Regions from separate parts of the Homo sapiens genome. Here all the other regions are linked to region 3. The links come from fine-mapping of genetic effects on gene expression. A gene starts in region 3. Each other region holds a variant in brackets. All regions are shown on one strand. Distances are from middle to middle. Region 1 has its middle 75 kb from the start of PIK3CG. Region 2 overlaps LINC02577 (long intergenic non-protein coding RNA 2577). Region 3 holds the start of PIK3CG (phosphatidylinositol-4,5-bisphosphate 3-kinase catalytic subunit gamma).

Evidence for each region. PIP is the estimated chance that this variant, and not a neighbour inherited with it, causes the effect.
Region 1: its variant is the best candidate, but not a certain one, in a credible set for the expression of PIK3CG in whole blood (TOPMed, PIP 0.77).
Region 2: its variant is the best candidate, but not a certain one, in a credible set for the expression of PIK3CG in whole blood (TOPMed, PIP 0.58).

The regions. Positions count from the first base shown.
Region 1 is chr7:106,936,616-106,943,723 of GRCh38, forward strand. No RefSeq gene overlaps it. Among named protein-coding and RNA genes, the nearest start is that of PIK3CG, 75 kb to the left of the region's middle. The variant G/A (reference allele first, on the strand shown) is at 3,214.
Region 2 is chr7:106,825,013-106,832,120 of GRCh38, forward strand. It overlaps LINC02577 (long intergenic non-protein coding RNA 2577), which reads left to right. Exons shown (of 5, transcript NR_170304.1): 3 at 5,050-5,198; 4 at 6,981-7,108. Among named protein-coding and RNA genes, the nearest start is that of PIK3CG, 37 kb to the right of the region's middle. The variant C/T (reference allele first, on the strand shown) is at 3,359.
Region 3 is chr7:106,861,127-106,867,998 of GRCh38, forward strand. PIK3CG (phosphatidylinositol-4,5-bisphosphate 3-kinase catalytic subunit gamma) reads left to right here and starts at 4,156. Exons shown (of 11, transcript NM_001282426.2): 1 at 4,156-4,300; 2 at 6,424-6,872. The coding sequence starts at 6,436. RefSeq lists a silencer at 1,438-1,732 and an enhancer at 4,228-4,327.

The DNA.
Region 1 (7,108 bases), 76 kb after region 3:
ACTAACCAGGTATGGTGATGCACACCTGTAGCCCTGGCTATTCAGGAGGCTGAGACAGGAGAACTGCTTGAACCTGGGAGGTGGAGGTTGCAGTGAGCCAAGATCATGCCACTGCACTCCAGCCTGGATGACAGAGCAGGACTCTATCTCAAAAAAAAAAGTATGATATTGATTACTATTTTACAATATTGCCAAACCCAAAAGGTCTTTTTCTTCTGTCCACGGGTGCTTTTATGTGCCTTAAATTGAAGGCATTAACTTCTTTTTGACTGATGCCTTTAGCACTTTGGTACCAGCATATTTTTAAATACCACAGACTTTTTTTTTTTTTTGAGACAGAGTCTCACTCTGTCGCCAGGCTGGTGTGCAGTGGCGTGATCTCAGCTCACTGCAACCTCCGCCTCCCCAGTTCAAGGATTCTCCTGCCCCAGCCTCCCGAGTAGCTGGGACTACAGGAGCCCACCACCACGCCCATCTAATTTTTGTATTTTTAGTAGAGATGGGGTTTCACCATGTTGGCCAGGATGGTCTCAATCTCTTGACCTCGTGATCCGCCCACCTTGGCCTCCCAGAGTGCTGGGATTACAGGCATGAGTCACTGCAGCCAGCCTTTAAATACCACAGCTTTCCTACAGTAACCAAAACAGCATGGTACTGGTACCAAAACAGAGATATAGACCAATGGAACAGAACAGAGCCCTCAGAAATAATACCACACATCTACAACCATCTGATCTTTGACAAACCTGACAAAAACAAGCAATGGGGAAAGGATTCCCTATTTAATAAATGATGCTGGGATAACTGGCTAGCCATATGTAGAAAACTGAAACTAGACCCCTTCTTTACCCCTTATACAAAAATTAATTCAAGATGGATTAAAGACTTACATGTTAGACCTAAAACCATAAAAACCCTAGAAGAAAACCTAGCTATTACCATTCAGGACATAGGCATGGGTAAGGACTTCATGTCTAAAACACCAAAAGCAATGGCAACAAAAGCCAAAATTGACAAATGGAATTTAATTAAGCTAAAGAGCTTCTGCACAGCAAAAGAAACTACCAGCAGAGTGAACAGGCAACCTATAGATTGGGAGAAAATTTTTGCAATCTTTCCATCTGACAAAGGGCTAATATCCAGAATCTACAAAGAACTTAAACAAATTTACAAGAAAAAAATCAAACAACCCCATCAAAAACTGGGCGAAGGATATGAACAGACGCTTCTCAAAAGAAGACATTTATGCAGCCAACAGACACATGAAGAAATGCTCATCATCACTAGCCATCAGAGAAATGCAAATCAAAACCACAATGAGATACCATCTCACACCAGTTAGAATGGCGATCATTAAAAAGTCAGGAAACAACAGGTGCTGGAGAGGATGTGGAGAAAGAGGAACACTTTTACACTGTTGGTGGGACTGTAAGCTAGTTCAACCATTGTGGAAGACAGTGTGGCAATTCCTCAAGGATCTGGAACTAGAAATACCATTTGACCCAGCCATCCCATTACTGGGTGTATACCCAAAGGATTATAAATCATGCTGCTATAAAGACACATGACCACGTATGTTTATTGCAGCACTATTCACAATAGCAAAGACTTGGAACCAACCCAAATGTTCATCGATGATAGACTGGGTTAAGAATATGTGCACATATATACCATGAAATACTATGCAGCCATAAAAAAGGATGAGTTCATCATGTCCTTTGTAGGGACACGGATGAAGCTGGAAACCATCATTCTCAGTAAACTATCGCAAGGACAAAAAACCAAACACCGCATGTTCTCACTCATAGGTGAGAATTGAACAATGAGAACACTTGGACACAGGAAGGGGAACATCACACACCGGGGTCTGTCATGGGGTCGGGGGAGTGGGGAGGGATAGCATTAGGATATACACCTAATGTAAATGACGAGTTAATGGGTGCAGCACACCAACATGGCACGTGTGTACATATGTAACAAACCTGCATGTTGTACACATGTACCCTAGAACTTAAAGTATAGTAAATAAATAAATACCACAGCCTTCTAAAAATCTGAAACCAGTCACTGGAGGGTGTGAAGAAAAGGGCTACAAAGATAGCTTTCCCTGGGTAAGAGAAGCTCTCTAGGAAGATAGAAAGAAGAGCAGACTGGAGGAGAAACACTAATATGTGATTTTAAATTTTAAAATTTAAATTTAGATCGGGGTTCTATCAGTTTTTCTCTCTTCTACCCAGCATATTTAGATGGTAGCCTGCTCTCAGGCCGAACTTTTGATTAGATTGTCTCGAAAGCTCTTCTAGGATGTTCTGGCTGAGATATCACTCTATCTAGAAAAGTTCAATAATGGAAAATGGAATAATTGAATTATTTTAATGCAATAAGAGCTCAGCACACTAAGATAGGCTTTTCCCCACTTATATTTAATTTGCGCTTTTTTCATATTTCCATGCTGACGGGATTCTAGTTTCCTTAAGATGGTGAAATTTGTGTTTTTAAATGAAATTTCATTTGGGCACAATGATTACTGAATATTATATGCAGTACTGTGGGGATTAAGAAGTGATTCAGATACAGCTCCCAAAGATCTTAGTCTAATGAGCGGATAAAGGGCACAAATGACTTTGTTTTTTGGTGTTTTTGTTTGTTTGGCTGATTGGTTTGTTGATTGGGTTGTTTATCTGTTTGTTTGTTTTAGAGTCTCACTCTGTCACCCAGGCTGGAGTGCCATGGTGCGGTGCTGCTATCGTGGCTCACTGCAGCCTTGACTTCCTGGGCTCAAGCAATCCTTCCACCTCAGCCTCCCAAGTAGCTGGGACTACAGGCACACGTCACCAGGCCCAGCTAATTTTTGGTACTTTTGTAGAAATAGGGTTTCGCCATGTTGTCCAGGTTGGTCTTAAACTACTGGGCTCAAGCAACCTGCCCACCTCAGTCTCCCAGAGTGCCGGGATTACAGGTGTGAGCTACCACGCCGGGCTACAAATAACTTTGCTATATCACAGTCTGTGACAAATATCCTCCATTAGCACTGGTATTTAGTTGATGATTTCCCAAAGCTTTTTTTCATTTTTAATATTCCCAGTAGCTCCTAAGAATTTGAACAAAATGCAATTATCAAGCAATCATCCCTATACGAGGTCTTCTACTCACTGTTACAGATCATTTCTTCCTGTTCACTGACCCAGTTAAAACAATATTGAAGCCCTAAAT[G/A]TCTTTTCAATGGAGATTTGTGTCCTCCAAAAGAAAGAACAATGAAAAGCCAGAAAAGCAGAGGAAGCTTGGAAAATACACCAGAGAGTCTCTTGGAAAATTATTTAATTCTTTATGATCTTAAAACATCTGGGTGTTTTGGCCGGGCACGGTGGCTCACGCCTGTAATCCCAGCCACTTTGGGAGGCCAAGGCGGGTAGATCACGAGGTCAAGAGATCAAGACCATCCTGGCTAACACAGTGAAACCCCGTCTCTACTAAAATTACAAAAAATTAGCCGGGTGTGGTGGTGGGCACCTGTAGTCCCAGCTACTTGGGAGGCTGAGGCAAGAGAATGGCGTGAACCCGGGAGGTGGAGCTTGCAGTGAGCCTAGATCGCGCCACTACACTCCAGCCTAGACAACAGAGTGAGACTCCGTCTCAAAAAAAAAAAAAAAAAAAAAAATCTGGGTGTTTTTAGATTCCCTCAACAGTTGGATTTTTCTTTAAATACCTCTCCCAAAAACACACGTAATATCAACACCCTAAAATCCACCAATGTTATACATAAAGAGTTGAGACACTCACAGATAAATGCAAGATTCCAACTTCCTTTCTGCACCACAGGATTAATGAAGTGTTCTCTTAAGGCAAACAATGAGGTTTCTCTGTGTCAATTACAGAAAAACATTTTCTTGTAGAACACAATTGTATATTATTCTAAATAAATGCCTTAATCCTCTAGCTGTGAATGCCATCTATTTTCAACAACGTCAGATCCATTATATTTTCCCACTTTCCTCTAAAGCTTCAGCTACTTACCCTAACATCATACTCATTTTACTTTTTTTTTTTTTTTGAGACAGGGTCTCACTGTATTGCCCAGACTGGAGTGCAGTGGCACAATCACGGTTTACTGCAGCCTCAACCTCCTGGGCTCAGGAGATCCTCTCACCTTGGCCTCCCAAGTAGCTAGAACTACAGGTACAAGCCACTACACCCAGCTAATTTTTTTTATTTTTTGTAGAGATAGGTTTCATCATGTTGCCCAGGCTGGTCTCAAACTCCGGAACTCAAGTGATTTGCCCACCTCAGCCTCCCAAAGTGCTGGTATTACAGGCATGAGCTACTGCATCTGGCCCCCACTTTTTATTAACCCTGAAAGTTTAGTCTTTGATAGGCCAACTAGATATAGCTCACTGATCAGTTTGACTGTCCAGAAAATCTAATGACCCTTTTAAATATTTTTTAGTTAGCAAACAGGGGGAAATATTTGCAACACAAATTAAAGTCTAGGGACTAATTTACATAAAATACAAACAGCAATTAAAAATAGTAAGTGGAAGGTCAGGCGCAGTGGCTCACGCCTGTAATCCCAGCACTTTGGGAGGCTGAGGCAGGTGGATCACAAGGTCAGGAGCTCAAGACCAGCCTAGCCAAGATGGTGAAACCCCTTCTCTACTAAAAATACAAAAAATTAGCCAGGCGTGGTGGCAGGTGTCTGTAATCCCAGCTACTCAGGAGGCTGACGCATGAAAATCGCTTGAACCTAGGAGGCAGAGGTTGCAGTGAGCCGAGATCATACCACTGCACTCCAGCCTGGGCAACAGAGTGAGCCTCTGTCTAAAAAAAAAAAAAAAAAAAGTAAGTGGCCGGGCGTGGTGGCTCACACTGGTAATCCCAGCAGTTTGGGAGGCTGAGATGGGTGGATCACCTGAGGTCAGGAGTTTGAGACCAGCCTGGCCAACATGGTAAAATGCTGTCTCTACTAAAAATACAAAAAATTAGCTGGGCACGGTGGTGGTGCACGCCTGTAATCCCAGCTGCTCAGGAGGCTGAGGCAGGAGAATCACGTGAACCCAGGAGGCAGAGGTTAGAGTGAGCCGAAATTGCACCACTGCACTCCAGCCTGGGCGACAAAACAAGACTCCGTCTCAAAAAAAAAAAAAAAAAAAAAATCAGTAAGAAAAGACTTGACCCTTCAACGAGAAAAATGGAAAAAAGACATATAAATGACTAACAAATATGAGAAATATTCTATTTCTTTACTATTAAATAAATGTAAATTTTAAAGAACAATTAAATATCACTTTTCAACTACCAGATTAACTAACACTTAAATCACAATCATCAATGTTGCTGAGGATATGGGATAAACAGTTTGATTTACTGTAGGTGGGAACATAGATTGGTGCAGTGGCAATTTGGTTATATATACATATATATACAAATCCATATATATGTGTATGTGTGTACACATTTATGTGTGTGTTCGTATACTTTTTTTTTTTTTTAAGATAGAGTCTTGCTCTGTTGCCAGGCTGGAGTGCAGTGGTATGATCTCAGCTCACTGCAACCTCCGCCTCCTGGGTTCAAGCGATTCTCATGCCTCAGCCTCCAGAGTAGCTGGGACTACAGGTGCCCACCACCACACCCAGCTAATTTTTGTATTATTAGTAGAGATGGGGTTTCACCACGTCAATCAGGATGGTCTCCATCTCCTGACCTCGTGATCCACCTGCCTCGGCCTCCCAAAGTGCTGGGATTACAGGCATGAGCCACCACGCCTGGCCCACATTTTTTTTTTTTTTGAGATAGAGTCTTGCTCTGTTGCCCAGGCTGGAGTGCAGTGGCACAATCTCAGCTCACTGCAAGCTCCGCCTCCTGGGTTCACACCATTCTCCTGGCTCAGCCTCCCCAGTAGCCCAGTAGCTGGGACTACAGGCACCCGCCACCTTGCCTGGCTAATTTTTTGTATTTTTAGTAGAGATGGGGTTTCACCATGTTAGCCAGGATAGTCTCAATCTCCTGACTTCGTGATCCACCTGCCTCGGACTCCCAAAGTGCTGGGATTACAGGCGTGAGCCACCGCGCCCAGCCCCTATCCCACATTTTTTTTTAAGAGACAGGGTAGTATTCTGTCTCTTATACAGAGCTACAATGCAGTGATGCAATCATAGCTCATGGCTGCCTCAAACTCATGGGCTCAAGTGATATTCCACCTCAACCAAGTAGCTAGGACTACAGGCATGCACCACCATTCCCAATTAATTTTTAAAAAATGTTCCTGTAGAGATGGGATCTTGCAGTGTTGTTCAGGCTCAGGCTGGTCTAATTTCCTGGCCTCAAGCAATCCTCCTGCCTTGGCCTCCCAAAGTGCTGGGATTACAGGTGTGAGCCACCATCATCGGTCTGATCATGTATTTTCAATTAGGAAGGTACATTCCCTTTTACCTAACAATTTTATTTGTAGATACTTAGTCAAAAATGCATGACTATGTACAAAGTTGTTTTTTGTTGTTGTTTTGTTTTTCTTTTTGGAGATGGAGTCTCGCTCTGTTGCCCAGGCTGGAGTGCAGTGGCACGATCTTGGCTCATTGCAGCCTCCATCTCCCAGGTTCAAGCAATTCTCCTGTCTCAGCCTCTGAGTAGCTGGGATTACAGGCATCTGTCACCATGCCCGGCTAATTTTTGTATTTTTTGTAGAGGCAGGGTTTCATCATGTTGACCAGGCTGGCCTCAAACTGCTGACCTCAGGTGATCCACCCACCTCAGCCTCCCAAAGTGCTGGGACTACAGGCGTAAGCCACCGCACCCAGCCTGTATAAAGTTGTTAACTGAAACATTGCTCATCAGAACAAAATACTGGAAACAGTCTAAATGCCCCTTAATAAGGCACTAGTTAAATAAAATCCATACCCTAGAATACTATATAGCCATTAATAAGATTAAGATAGATGCATATATTTATATGTATTGACATGGAAAATGTCCAAGATGTATTGTTAGTGGAAAAAAGAAAGTTACAGAAGGGAATGTTTAATATGAACCCATTTATGTATTTATGTATATAAATATGCATACTATGACCCTGTTTGTGTATCTATATATACTTTGTATATATATATAAATACAT
Region 2 (7,108 bases), 36 kb before region 3:
ATGATCATGTGACCAGTTACAGAAATGAGGACTGTAATTGTCATATTTCTCCCTATTTTGTTAAGAATGCATTTGTATTTATATATACATATATTAAACAAGTATCTTTGTTTTCATTCCTCTGAATCATTTAACTTAAGATATATTGACTTTATATCAGTATTTAAGTATTGTTAATAATACATCATAATATTTAAGTGATGGGATATCAGGAGACAAGTAAACATCATTCAAGGACTTTACCTCCTCTTCTGGGTAAGGGTTTAGTGGTGTTTTGTTTTGTTTTGTTTTGTTTTGTTTTTTGAGACGGAGTTTCACTCTTGCTGCCCAGGCTGGCGTGCAATGGCATGATCTCTGCTCACTGCAACCTCCGCCTCCTGGGTTCAAGCGATTCTACTGTCTCAGCCTCCTGAGTAGCTGGGATTACAGGCATGCGCCACCACATCCGGCTAATTTTGTATTTTTGGTAGAAACAGGGTTTCTCCATGTTGGTCAGGCTGGTCTCCAACTCCCCACCTCAGGTGATCCGCCTGCCTCACCTTCCCAAGGTGCTGGGATTACAAACATGAGCCACAGGATAATTGTATCAGGTTAGGTAGGACTATTACCTTGTTATTGTCTTTATTTGGAGACTAAGTACAGTTTACAGAGACGTGTGTGGGTGCCAAGTTGACAAGCAGTGGACTTGTGATAGTTAATTTTAGGTGTCAACTTGACTGGATTCAGGAATACCTGGCGAACTGGTAAAGCTTTATTTCTGGGTGTGTCTATGAGGTGTTTCCAGAGGAGATTGGTGTGTAAGTCAGTGGAGTGAGTGGGAAAGATCCACCTTTGATGTGGCCAGGCACCATCCAATCAGCTGGGGACCTGGATAGAACAACAACAAAAAAAACGGCAAAGGAAAGATGATTTTCAATCTCTTTCTCTCCTGGAGCTAGGATATTCTCCTTCTGCCCATAGACTTTAGAACTCCATGTTCTTCAGCCTGTGGATTCCAGGACTTACACCAGTGGCCTCCTGGGTTCTTAGGACTTTGGGCTTGGACTGGAAATTACACCACTGGTTTCTGGACTTTTGGACTTGGACTGAACCATGCTATCACCATTCCATGGTCTCCACCAGCTTGCAGGTGGCCTGCAGTGGGACTTCTCAGCCTCTATAATAGCATGAGCCAATTCCCCCAGTAACTCCCTGTCTTATATCTATAGCTATAGCTATACCATATTGGTTCTGTTGCTCTGGACAACCCTGACTAATAAATACACTGGCAGATATAGAAACAGATAATGACAGCATTTTTGAATACAGGTTAAAATAATTTTCTGAAATCAACTCTAATAAAAAGGACAACCACTTATGAAACATTTCCTGCCATATGGACCTATATAGGGAGAAGGTATTTTCCAGTAATGCCTTTATGATTATAATTAACATTTAAAGAAATGAAGAATGACAGCTTTTATAAGCAGTAGCTGGAATTAGCTGTAGTGAGAAAAAGTGAAGTCCTCCATTTTTACACTTTCTAGTCTCAAGTGTCTTGTTTCCACAACTTCATCCCTCTCTTATTATTTTAGTAAAATCCTTCCCTGTGTCACCCTCAACACCAAAAAATATATTAATTAAAAGCATTCTCATTAAAAATCTGTCGTGTCTTTTTATCTGCATGCATTTCTCGTTAAGCCCTGTACGGTCTTATCTATAACAATAAAATTTCATCATCACAGGATGGCTGTCTCTGGTATTAGTTCTGATGAACTGGTTTTAGAGTCTAAGTCTCAAGAGACTTTGTTCACAGAGCAGGTTTTGCTTATGTGGACTTAGGTGGACACCCATGGCCACCATAGTCACTTTTGCTGGCAACGCCCAAGATAATAAAATCTTACTATTCTACTAAATCCCTCAGCTCATCTGTAACTCCACCCTGGCTGTTCCTTTACACTTGAGGGGCCTCAATTGGACTTCCAGGGTATCATGGATTTGGTCCACAGCTAAACATATATCCTCAACCACTTAGTCCTAAATTTTGTGGCAAAATATCTATGGTGATAAACAAACATTGGGAACTTAATATAGTCACAGAGAGTACATACTCTATTTTATGCAGACAACCATGGACATGTGCAATAAATGATGTTAGTTGTGTGTATGTGAACAGAGTTTAGTGTTATCAAAACTGCTGAAAAGCTAATTCGGCACCTTCAGCGACGTGTCTATTTAACATTCTGCTGCATAGTAATTATGCATAAATGGGAAGCAGTTTTCATAAGTTGTGGTGATTACTTTTACCATGCCAAGTTTTATAGTGTTTTTAGTGTGTGTGGCCGGGGGAGATTTAATAATGTCTGTAAATAATGTCGATGTCAACAGAGTCCCCTAACATCATATAAATCCAAACAAAGGCACCAGTCCAAAGACTGATCCACCAATTTCTGGGACCCCCTGGGCAGTAGTATTCACCTGCTGGCACTGGAATCAGATTGTGTGTTTTCTTCAGTGTGCCTCTATCTTCTGGGTTAATTATCCCCCATGCTACACATACCAATGCTTCCTCATCCTTATATAAAAGAACATTGTACATCAATTAACTTTTTATTGTTCTCCTTTCAAAAAGCTGGGCCCCATGCTTTAAAGGCCCCTAATGTTACCAAAACTAGAAAAGAAATGTATCAGAGAACACATGGTCACCTTTGTTCCTGGGAACCAGGTGTTCAGAACTGACACAATATCACAATATAACCCGTGATCCTAAACATCTGTTCTCATGACTAACACCATTCAGGACCCAGCAAAACACTTCTTTGCATGTCTTGCACTATGTATGCCCTATGATCTCAAAATGAAAGTTGATTCCAGCTGAAGGACTTGAAGGTTTCTGGGATGTATCTGCTGACTTCTGAGCTGTTGCTTTGAGACTGGGGAGATGTGACAGATGGAAACATCTAAGTAAAATACAAATGAATTAATTTTTCAAATCTTTCTTCTCAGCTTGAATGCACCCAGATTCTTACGCTAACTAAGTAGCATTTCCCAATAATGTCAAAGCTTCTCTTAGCACTCCAATTCCAGAGGGATTAGTTTGGTTCTAGGGTACTCACAAATTAATATGATATTCACAATAGTTCCATATGACCCCTTAGGAATATATATTTAGCAATATTAACCAATTCATATTACTACAAAATTATATATTTGTAGGTTTGGATATAACATTCATGAAACTGATACCAATTTTCACATTGCTACTTGATACTGGATATTGCTTTAAGAGATGGAAGAATCACAACATATGCAATAGTAGTTTGTATAATATTGGTATATAATAGTGTGTGGATTTTTGACCCTAAATCCAAAAATGTTT[C/T]AAAGGAGTCACTGACTGCAAAGAAATTTTAATAATATGTTAAATAATTTATTTCACTTTTGTTTTTATTCTACATGAGTAATAGAACAGCAGCTCTCAACGTGTGGTCTAAAAGTTCCTGGGAGTGCCAAAACCCTTTCAGGGGGCCCACAACAACAAATTCTGTTTTCATAATAATACCAAGGTATTATTTGTATTTTTCACTGTGTTAACATTTGTATAGATGGTAAAAAGTACTGATGGATATAATTGATGGTGCCTTAGCACACATCAAGCCAGTGGCACCAAATTTACTAGTAATCACTGTATTCTTACTACTGCATACCACAATTTTTTAAAAGCTGAATTCTCATAAGAATATTCTTAATGAAGCAAAAAGTACTTCTGCTGCATAACAAAGTATTATCGTTATCTTGAAAAGAAGCATTTTTGTAATTAATATTATACTTCCAAGCAAAAATCGAATCTTAAAAAACCTTGTGTCACTGTGAACTTGATACCTTCCCAATACTTCAAGATTCTTCTGATGAGATCGATGGTGATAGTAAGAAATGTGATTTTTTTGGGATATTGTATAATAAAATGTGTCAACATTTGGAAAATTGGCATAACTCAGTGGACCCATATTTTCTAAATGACCATTGCATGATGTTACAAAATCATGCATGAATAAAAAAATCCATTCAAAGTGCAAGACAGACCAATCAATTTTAATATAACAGATTATGAAAGTTCATTGATGTAGTTTCAGATTTGATATTGTTACAGTAGGTAGTCAGACATAAGCAGCACCAAGGAAAGATAATCCCCCAATAGATAAAAACACCTGAAACTGGTGATCCGCAGCTTCCCAATAAGATCTCAGGAGTCGGGTATATGGGCTCAAGCATGCACATTAATGGGCAAAAGGACAGAGTTCAACTGGTATATAACCTCCCTCTAAAAGCATTTGAATGGTAAGGGAAAAACGCCACAAGTGAGCATGTGCACAATTTCAGTAAACACACTGGGCCTGCAGCCCCTCCCAAGTGCTAGCAGAACACTGCACATGCGGACAGCCCACCCCAAGGGAAGAATCAGGGAAAGAAGGGATGCAACACCCACTCACCCCCAACCAAAGCATGCCAAGGTATAAAACCCCAAGTCAAAGGTCAAACTGCGCACTTGAATCTCTCAAGTCGCCCGCATGGCCCTCTTCCAATTGTACTTTACTTTCGTTCCTGCTCTAAAACTTTTTACTAAACTTTTTCTCCTGCTCTAAAACTGTCAGGCCTCTGAGCCCAAGCTAAGCCATCACAACCCCTGTGACTTGCATGTATACATCCAGATGGTCTGGAGCAACTGGAGAACCACAAAAGAAGTGAAACAGTCAGTTCCTGCCTTAACTGATGACATTCCACCATTGTGATTTGTTCCTGCCCCACCCTAACTAATCAATCGACCTCGTGACATTCCTCCCCTGGACAATGTGTCTCATGATCTCCCCACCCTGCCCCTTGAGACCCCCGCCCCTGCCCATAAGAGATAACCACCTTTAACTGTAATTTTCCACTACCTACCCAAATCCTATAGAACTGCCCCACCCCTATCTCCCTTTGCTGACTCCTTTTTCGGACTCAGCCCACCTGCACCCAAGTGAATAAAGAGCCTCGTTGCTCACACAAAGCCTGTTTGGTGGTCTCCTCACACAGACGCATGTAACATTTGGTGCTGAAACCCAAGACAGGGGACTCCTTCAGAAGACCAGCCCCCTGTCCTCACCCTCAGTCCGGGAGGAGATCCACCTACGACCTCGGGTCCTCAGACCAGCCCAAGGAACATCTCACCAATTTCAAATTGGGTAAGTGACCTCTTCACTCTCTTCTCCAGCCTCTCTTGCTACCCTTCAATCTCCCTATCCTTCCAACTCCAGTTCTCTTTCCTCTCTAGTAGAGGCAAAGGAGACACATTTTATCCACGAACTCAAAAATTCCGATGTCGGTCATGGATTTGGGAAGACAGTCTTCCCTTGGTGTCTGATCATAGCGGGGACGCCTGCCTTGATCATTCACCCACACTCCATTGGTGGCAGGTCAATTGCAGGGACACCTGCTTTGGCTGCTCACCCACATTACAGCCGAGGACTCAGTCAGGGATGCCTACTAGAAGCCTGGCAGCTGCCTACCTCCATTTCTCCGTGTCTCTACCTTCCTCTTTAAACTTACCTTCCCCACTATGGGCAAGCTTCTGCCATCCATTCCTCCCTCTTCCCCCTTAGCCTGTGTTCTTAAAAACCTAAAACCCCTTCAACTAACACCTGACCTAAAACCTAAACATCTTATATTCTTCTGTAATACCGCTGGGCCCCAATACAAACTTGACAATAGTTCCAAGTGGTCAGAGGATGGTAATTTTTATTTGTCTATCCTACAAGACCTAGATAATTTTTGTCAAAAATTAGGCAAATGGTCTGAGGTGCCTTACGTCCAGGCCTTTTTTACACTTTGCTCTCTCCCTAGTCTCTGCTCCCAATGTGACTTATCCCAGATTTTCCTTCTTTCTCTCCCGTCCACTCCTTCGGTCTCCACCCCAAGCTCAGAGTCCTCTGAATCCTCCTTTTCCACTGACCCCTCTGACCTCTCTCCTCCTCCCCCGGCCGCTCCTCGCCGGGCTGAATCATGTCCCAATTCTTCCACAGCCTCCACTCCCCCACACTATAACCCTTCTATTACCTCCTCTCCTCACACCTGGTCTGGCTTACAGTTTCGTTCCGTGACTAGCTCTCTTCCACCTGACCAACAATTTCCTCTTAGAGAGGTGGCTGGAGCTGAAGGCATAGTCAGGGTACATGTGCCTTTTTCGGACCTCTTCCAGATCAGTCAGCATTTAGGCTCTTTCTCATCAGACCCCACTAAATATATACAGGAATTCCAATATTTAACTCAGTCCTACAATTTAATCTAGAGTGACTTAAATGTCATCCTGACTTCTACCCTCTCCCCAGATGAGTGAGAGAGAGTTTATAACCTAGGCCAATCTCACGCTGACGACTGCCGGCATCATGAGCCAGGCCTCCAAGAAGGCACCAGGGCAGTTCCCCAGGAGGGTCCCCAGTGGGGATACCAAACAGGCTCCCAAGATATAGCTAGGCGAGATTACATGGTCTCTTGCCTAGTTGAGGGGCTCAAAAAGGCAGCATACAAAGCTGTTAATTATGAAAAACTTAAAGAAACCACCCAAGGTAAGGACAAGAACCCAGCTCAGTTCATGGCCCGCTTGGGGGCTACCCTTAGACACTTTACAGTCCTGGACCCAGACATTAGGAAAAAACTCCAAAAACTAGATTCCGGCCCTCAAACCCCAGAACAACATTTAATTAACCTCACCTTCAAGGTGATTAACAACAGAGAAGAGGCAGCCAAGCGACAACATATTTCAAAGCTGCAACTGCTTGCCTCCACCATAAGAAAAATCCCAGCCACACCCATGGTACACAAAAACCTCAGAACAACAAAACCGCAACCTCCAGGCACTCCTTCAAAACCTCCTTGTGGACCTTGCTTCAAATGCCAGAAGCCTGGCCACTGGGCCTCGGAATGCCCACAGCCCGGGATTCCTCCTAAGCCTTGTCCTGTCTGTGCAGGACCCCACTGGAAGTCGGACCATCCAACTTGGATTACAGCTGCTCCTAGACCTACTGGAGCAAAAAGCTAAGGCTCCTGGCTGATTCCTTCCCAGATCTCCTCGGCTTAGTGGCTAAAGACTGACGCT
Region 3 (6,872 bases):
ACACCTGTAATCTCAGCACTTTTGGAGGCTGTGGCAGGTGGATAACTTGAGGTCAGAAGTTCAAGACCAGGCTGGCCAATGTGGTGAAACCCAGTCTATACTAAAAATACAAAAATTAGTTGGGCATGGTGGCGCATGCCTATAATCCCAGCTACTCGGGAGGCTGAGGCAGGAGAATCACTTGAACCTGGCAAGTGGAGGTTACAGTGAGTTGAGATCACACCACCGCACTCCAGCCTGGGAGACAGAGCTAGACTCTGTCTCAAAAATAAAAAATAAAATAAAAATAAAGTATCACGCAAAGATTTTGGATTTTTAAAAACCAATTTATAGAAAAATCTTTTCCAGAAATTTGTGAAGTGCTTACTACTATGTATTGTCAAAGTTTAACTAAACAAGGAAACAGAAAAATGTGCTCAATGGTCAGTTTCTGATACTAAGAATGGAGAACAAAGTGGAAGGTCCCATAGGGACCTAGATCTGGCTGTAGGTCCATGGAGTTGTGTTGACTGTGACTGATTTCCCATAGCTTCTTTTCTCAGAACCTGAAGTGGCTCCCCTCCACCCACATGGCATAATAATAGCCTACATTCCTAATGGCATCAAGACTGTGGTACAGTCTCCTACAATCCTCCCTAATCCCATTTGTCCTTACAGTCAGAGCCCTGACATTTGGTTCTGGTGTCCACCACTCTCTAGCCAGCCAGAACTCAGGGGACAAATTCTGATTAGCTTAAACCATTCACATAATTCTATCCCCTTTCCTATTGATTGGCTGAGGTATCAATGCGCCCTTGCCACAATTCTGGCCAGAGACATAAGGGGACCCAGAAGACCTTTGGGAAAGTCTTCCTCTCTCTGAAAAAGAAACACACAAGATGGCATGGACTCTTCTTCCTCTGTGTGTCGTGTTGGTGTTTGACACCTGGAATTCTGTACCTTCTAGAGTCATCTAACATAATATCTTACATAGTACGGTGAGATAAGTTTTTGTTCCATTGAAAACTGAAGATTTATAACAACTTCCTGTGAAATATGTAGGGTGGTTGTTATCATTTGGTAGATTAGGAAGCCAAAAGAAATGAAGGGGCATATATGAGGCCTAAAGAATGTGCAGAAATAAACCTAGGTCTCATGAATGTGTGTGTTTCTACAATACCAGGATGCTTCTCTTAAATCTTACCAAATACAGACCAAAAAATATCAGGCACAGCTTCATAAAGGTTTGCCTTTGTGCTCGGACAACAAAGCAAGGTATGAAGGTGAACTAAACTGTCAGATTAGATTAAAATGCCTTTTTGCATTTTTATCACAATGTATAAATCATCTGAAGCTGAGCTAAAAAAAAATATGACAAGATGATCATGTTTTTTCAAGATGAAAGATTCCCTCGAGTCTGAGTGACATAGCTACTCCAACAGTAAATAACCAATAACAGAGTTCCCAGCCAGTATGCCCAAAGCGGTGAGGTCCTTGGGGATGCACCCGTTGTCTCACGCTTTGAGGAGCTTCCTCAGTTCACCCCAGTGTGCCATACACATGTCACCACTATTTACATGTGGCAACACATGAAATACGTATGGGAAGCACACACTTGTCTGGCCATGTCTCTCCCTGTCTCTCACACTGCTATCTTTCTCAGACTCTCCATTTCAGTGAACTGATCTGTTCACTGTCCCACAGATGCCTTCTGGCTTGAGGACTTGCCCCTGTGATTCCTCTTGCCTTGAATCCTGGACCTTCCCCTGCACATTTAAAACAAAAATTTTCAAATCTCACCCAAAGTGAACTCCTCCAGTAAACTGTTGGCTTGCATAATGAAAGTTACATCACACAATTAAACCGCTTGGACTGCATATGCTAACGCATTGCACATGTTATTCTTTCCTCTGCATGTTCTGTCTCTCCAAGTAGACCATAAATAATCTCTCTGAAGGCTGTTGGAAAGAGCCTTCCTCAAAACAAATAATTTTTAATGTCTATTGATCACTGATACTTCCTACTGTGTTCTTATTTTCTAAACTGTTCTATCTTGTCATTGCTGTGACCACTGATATGATATAGAAGGTCAGAGCCTTTGATTGTGTTTTTTTTCCCAACCAAAATGATTTCTGTGTCCACAGATTCACAGAAGGGAAAAATATTATTAAAATGGGATATTAATGAGGACTGAAGGTCTTCTAAATATTCTGGGGATATAAAATATTCTTACTCGTAAAGGATGCCTCTACACGGAGGAAGTATCCACAGAGGAAGGAAATCTTTGCCATTACTTCTTACTGGGAACATTTACTACAGATAGTCAAATTTTAGTGGCTATATTAAGATTTGGGGAAGAGCAGGGTACTTTTAATCTCAAGCCACCAATAAACCTGACATATTTGCCAGTTTAGTCATAAAACAGAAAATCCTTTGCCTAATCAAACTTAGCTTAATAGTTCCTTCAGAAGCAGGCAGGGCCAAGAGGCTGAGTCTCGTGTTTCTGGAATAATGTGGCATGTGTGTGTGTATGTGCAGTGCCAGATTGGGACTTGGCCCCCTGGAAGTGACTGAGCCAGGACAGGGAAGGGATCTATTGAATGGTCTGGGGAACAGGGCTGGCCAAGCTCATGGTCCCTCTGAGGTCAGCCCTCCCACCCTCAAACCTCCTCCCACTCCACCCACCCCCAGGAACCCTCCCACACACTCTGGGTAAAACACAGCTTGGCAAGCTCTCACATCATGGCTTGGTGGCTACAGTGTGTTGATCTTCCCTCAGGACCAACCAAGAAAGCTAGCCTTGGTGCTTCTAAAGCTGCCAGCCTCCTAAGGGAGTATTCCTATATAGGAATATACTTTGAGAAGCTGATAAGACCCCTCTAAATATTTGGGAGGCAGCCTTTGAATTAAATTATTTGCCTGCTGATGTCAACTATTAGAGTGCTATTTAAAAGTTAAAACCCAAGAGGCATATGTAAAAGGAAATAAGTCAAATCAATCATTTATCTCAATATCAGAGTAATTCAGAGGAACTCTTAATTACATACCTCCAAGAGACTTGTGAGGTCAACTCCATTCTATCTGCTGCCCTTGAAGCTCAGCTGGAGTCCCTCAACACCCCGATTGGAGGATGAACTCTAGCATAGGGAATTCTGAGATGGAGGGAGGGGGCGCTGGTTCAGGATGCTTGGAGGTTCTAGAAAGAACTGAGGTCACCTGGAAGATACAACGCTACTCTAAAAATGATTCAGGATGGCTTTTCTATGCATTCTCTACTCCCATAGGAATCAGGGGCCACCTCCCAGGATGGAATCTGCCTGATGCTGTAACAGTGTTCAGCTCCCCAATTTCCCCATGATAACAGGCAACCTCCTTCTGTTTTGTCTACAGTTAATTAATCAGTCATTGCTGACAGTAAGGCTCCATCCTCAACACAGGATATTTTCTGAAGCATTAATTTTTGTTTCAATAGTTGATCCTTGTTTGGAATATAATGTGTTACAATGTAGTGGTACTTAGTATTAAAATCAAAATACCTTTTTATTCATCTTTCAATTTTAATACTTTTAGCATTTCAACCATTATTTGAAGGGTTACTTACTGCAGTATGTCACATTTATATACACACATGCACATGCTGCAGTGCTTTCAGTTTGAGCCAGTGATATTTTAGGCCCCAAATGCTCTGAAAAAATAGAGAAAGCTCTCACCAAGCTAAGGAAGTGAGCTTGCAGACCATGCCTTTAAAAATTTTCAGCTTGATAACTTAGTCCTCAAGATGACTAGGTTTCTCTTCCCCCACCCCTCAGTTAGCATGTGCGAACAAGGATTCTTTTGAATTCCCAGGAGGGGAATGAGTTTAATTTGACTGGTAAAAGTCTTCCTAATAGGATACCTAATACTGTGGCTCTTAGAACTAGCTACAAAGATATTTCATATGTTTATGTCTCATAATGGGTAATTTTGGTTTGGATTTATGTCATTTTGTCTCAGTATCACAATTTTTGAAAAATTAGTTCAAAGAGAAAAAAAAAAGAAAAGAAAAACCATGGTAAACATTGCTCAGTCTCATACTCCTACCCTCTCTATGCTAAAACAGGAAATGCATTTCTGACACTTTTAAAATGAGCAATCACACGTATAATCAACTTGGTTAAAACTTCCTTCCTGGTAACTGCAACACTTCCTCTGCATCTGGATATGAAGGGAGCCCCAGAAAAGCGGAAGAATTTAGACGCACACTGGGTAGGTTTGAATTTGTTTTGTTTTCAAAAATTAAACAAATGATCCTTCAGCATCATCGCCTCCGCTGCTTTATCAGGTATTGCTTCCTTCTATTTTTTGCTCTTTGTGGGGTCTGACTCGGAATAGTGGCACTTCCTTCTCGGCTAGATTATCTGAAACTGTTGTCGGTTCTTGAGATGATACTACCACCGAATGTCTGTGTTTCATTGTCTAGTCCAACCTGTATTGTGGATATCTACAACGTTCCGGCAATAGTTTTGCAGGTGCATCACATTTTTGTTTTTGTTTTGGGAGGAAAAGGGAGGGCACGGCAGCCAGGCTTCATATTCCTACAAGTGCATGCTTCAAGATTACTGTACTTACAGTGTTTCCAACATCTTCTCATAAAAGGGGAAAGCTTCATAGCCTCAACCATGAAGGAAACCAGTGAGTATTAGTCAGCCTGTTTTCCTCTGCATCTTATAAGATCGTTTGGTATCACTGAGGCAGAAGTTATTGCTGTGTATTTATATGCTGCCTAAATTTGGACATGTTTTATTTCAAGTTAGTGTCAATATCAATGTATCTTACAGTTCTCTTCTTTGTTAGTTATTCTATAATGTAGCAAAAGACCAAAATGAATGTTTTAAGCCACAAGAGACAGTTCTTTGGGACAGTTGGTTTCACTTACTAAGTATAACTTCATATTTTAAGAGAGGGAATATTGGTTTTAAAAGTTAAGCCAAGATTTGAACATAAGTTTGGATCAAATGAAATTTGTCTTTCTTATCTTCTTATCAAGCTCTCCTTTTTGGTATACATCAAATGCTCCACTATTTCTTAAGGAAATAATGTAGTTTTAAGTCTAACATTAGTTATTTAAGAGAGTAAACGATATTTTCTGAAACATTAATTTTTTGTTTCAATAATTGATTCGTTTAGAATATAATGTATTACAATGTAGTGATACTAAACATTGAAAGCAAAATACCTAATCTTTCAGTGTTAATACCTTTCAAATTTCAATTATTATTTGAAGGATTTCCTATTGCAGTATGTCCTATTTATACATAAGTGCTTTGTGAAGGGTAGGTACTTACTGAATTTTGTGGAAAGAGTGAGTAGGTTAATGAGAATAAATTTGTGAATTTGTGTTACAAAAATGAAAATATTAGAGCAAAAAAGAAGTTAAATGATTGGGGGTCTTAACAGAAGGTCACTGGAGTCCAGAAATCCTGCCTTCCATCCTGTAGCTCCTCCATTATTAAGTAGAGACAGATCAAATGAATTTTAATTAATTAATTAAACAATGTTAAAATTACCTAAATGTTCCTATTGGGAGAGTACAGCCTTGGGTGACTCTTCTAAGATACTGCCCTAATATAGCAGTGACAGCCAGAATGCTGACAAATTCCATGATTCAAAATTTTACATATCTGCAAATGGTTTTGACTGTAACTTTACTAATTCCGATATGTTTTAGCTTTACAAATGAAATGACTTGCTTTCCTAATTAGAAAGAAAAAATGAAACCAAGAGGCAGGAAATTTATTAGGGAGTAGATCCTAGGTCCAGGCAGTTTGAAAACAGGCAACGTGAAGCAAGGCTGGGTGAGGTGTCTGGGTTCCAAGAAGTGTGAGACTTAACAAAGAGGAAGTAAGTTAAAGGCCTGTTTTCAAAGTGAGATTTTTTGGCATCTCGTGTTGCACCTTGTAAACTGGGACTTGAACCTTAACTGTACTATTTTAGTAATCTATATGTTTCAGTATGTTTAAGAACAATGTCCATTCTGAGCCATTATAATGTGTCATGCGCTGTGCTGGATGAGTGTTTTACCTACCTCTTTAAAATTTTCAAAGTATACAAAAGTAGAACGACCAATAAGCCCCCATATACCTGTCACCCATATTGAACAAGTATTACTTTATTTAACTCTCCCTCTGGGGCATTCATTACTAACCAGTTTGAGAGATGAGAAACAGGCTCAGAGATTAAGCAGCCCAAATCACCCAGAAAGTAAGTGGCTGGGCCAGGACTCACCGGCCCGACTCCAAAGCCCACGCTCTGAAGGGCTGTAGTGCTTCCAGTTTAAAATACTTGGTCCCTCTGGGTCCCTGTGCACATGTACGCCGCCTATACCTCCTCTTCCCTCATCTCACCAGAAAATATAAGGGGAAAGTGCCTTTCTTGTGACAAATCCCTGTGTCCCTCCGCTCCCAGGTCGCATAGGGCATGGAGCTGGAGAACTATAAACAGCCCGTGGTGCTGAGAGAGGACAACTGCCGAAGGCGCCGGAGGATGAAGCCGCGCAGTGCTGCGGCCAGCCTGTCCTCCATGGAGCTCATCCCCATCGAGTTCGTGCTGCCCACCAGCCAGCGCAAATGCAAGAGCCCCGAAACGGCGCTGCTGCACGTGGCCGGCCACGGCAACGTGGAGCAGATGAAGGCCCAGGTGTGGCTGCGAGCGCTGGAGACCAGCGTGGCGGCGGACTTCTACCACCGGCTGGGACCGCATCACTTCCTCCTGCTCTATCAGAAGAAGGGGCAGTGGTACGAGATCTACGACAAGTACCAGGTGGTGCAGACTCTGGACTGCCTGCGCTACTGGAAGGCCACGCACCGGAGCCCGGGCCAGATCCACCTGGTGCAGCGGCACCCGCCCTCCGAGGA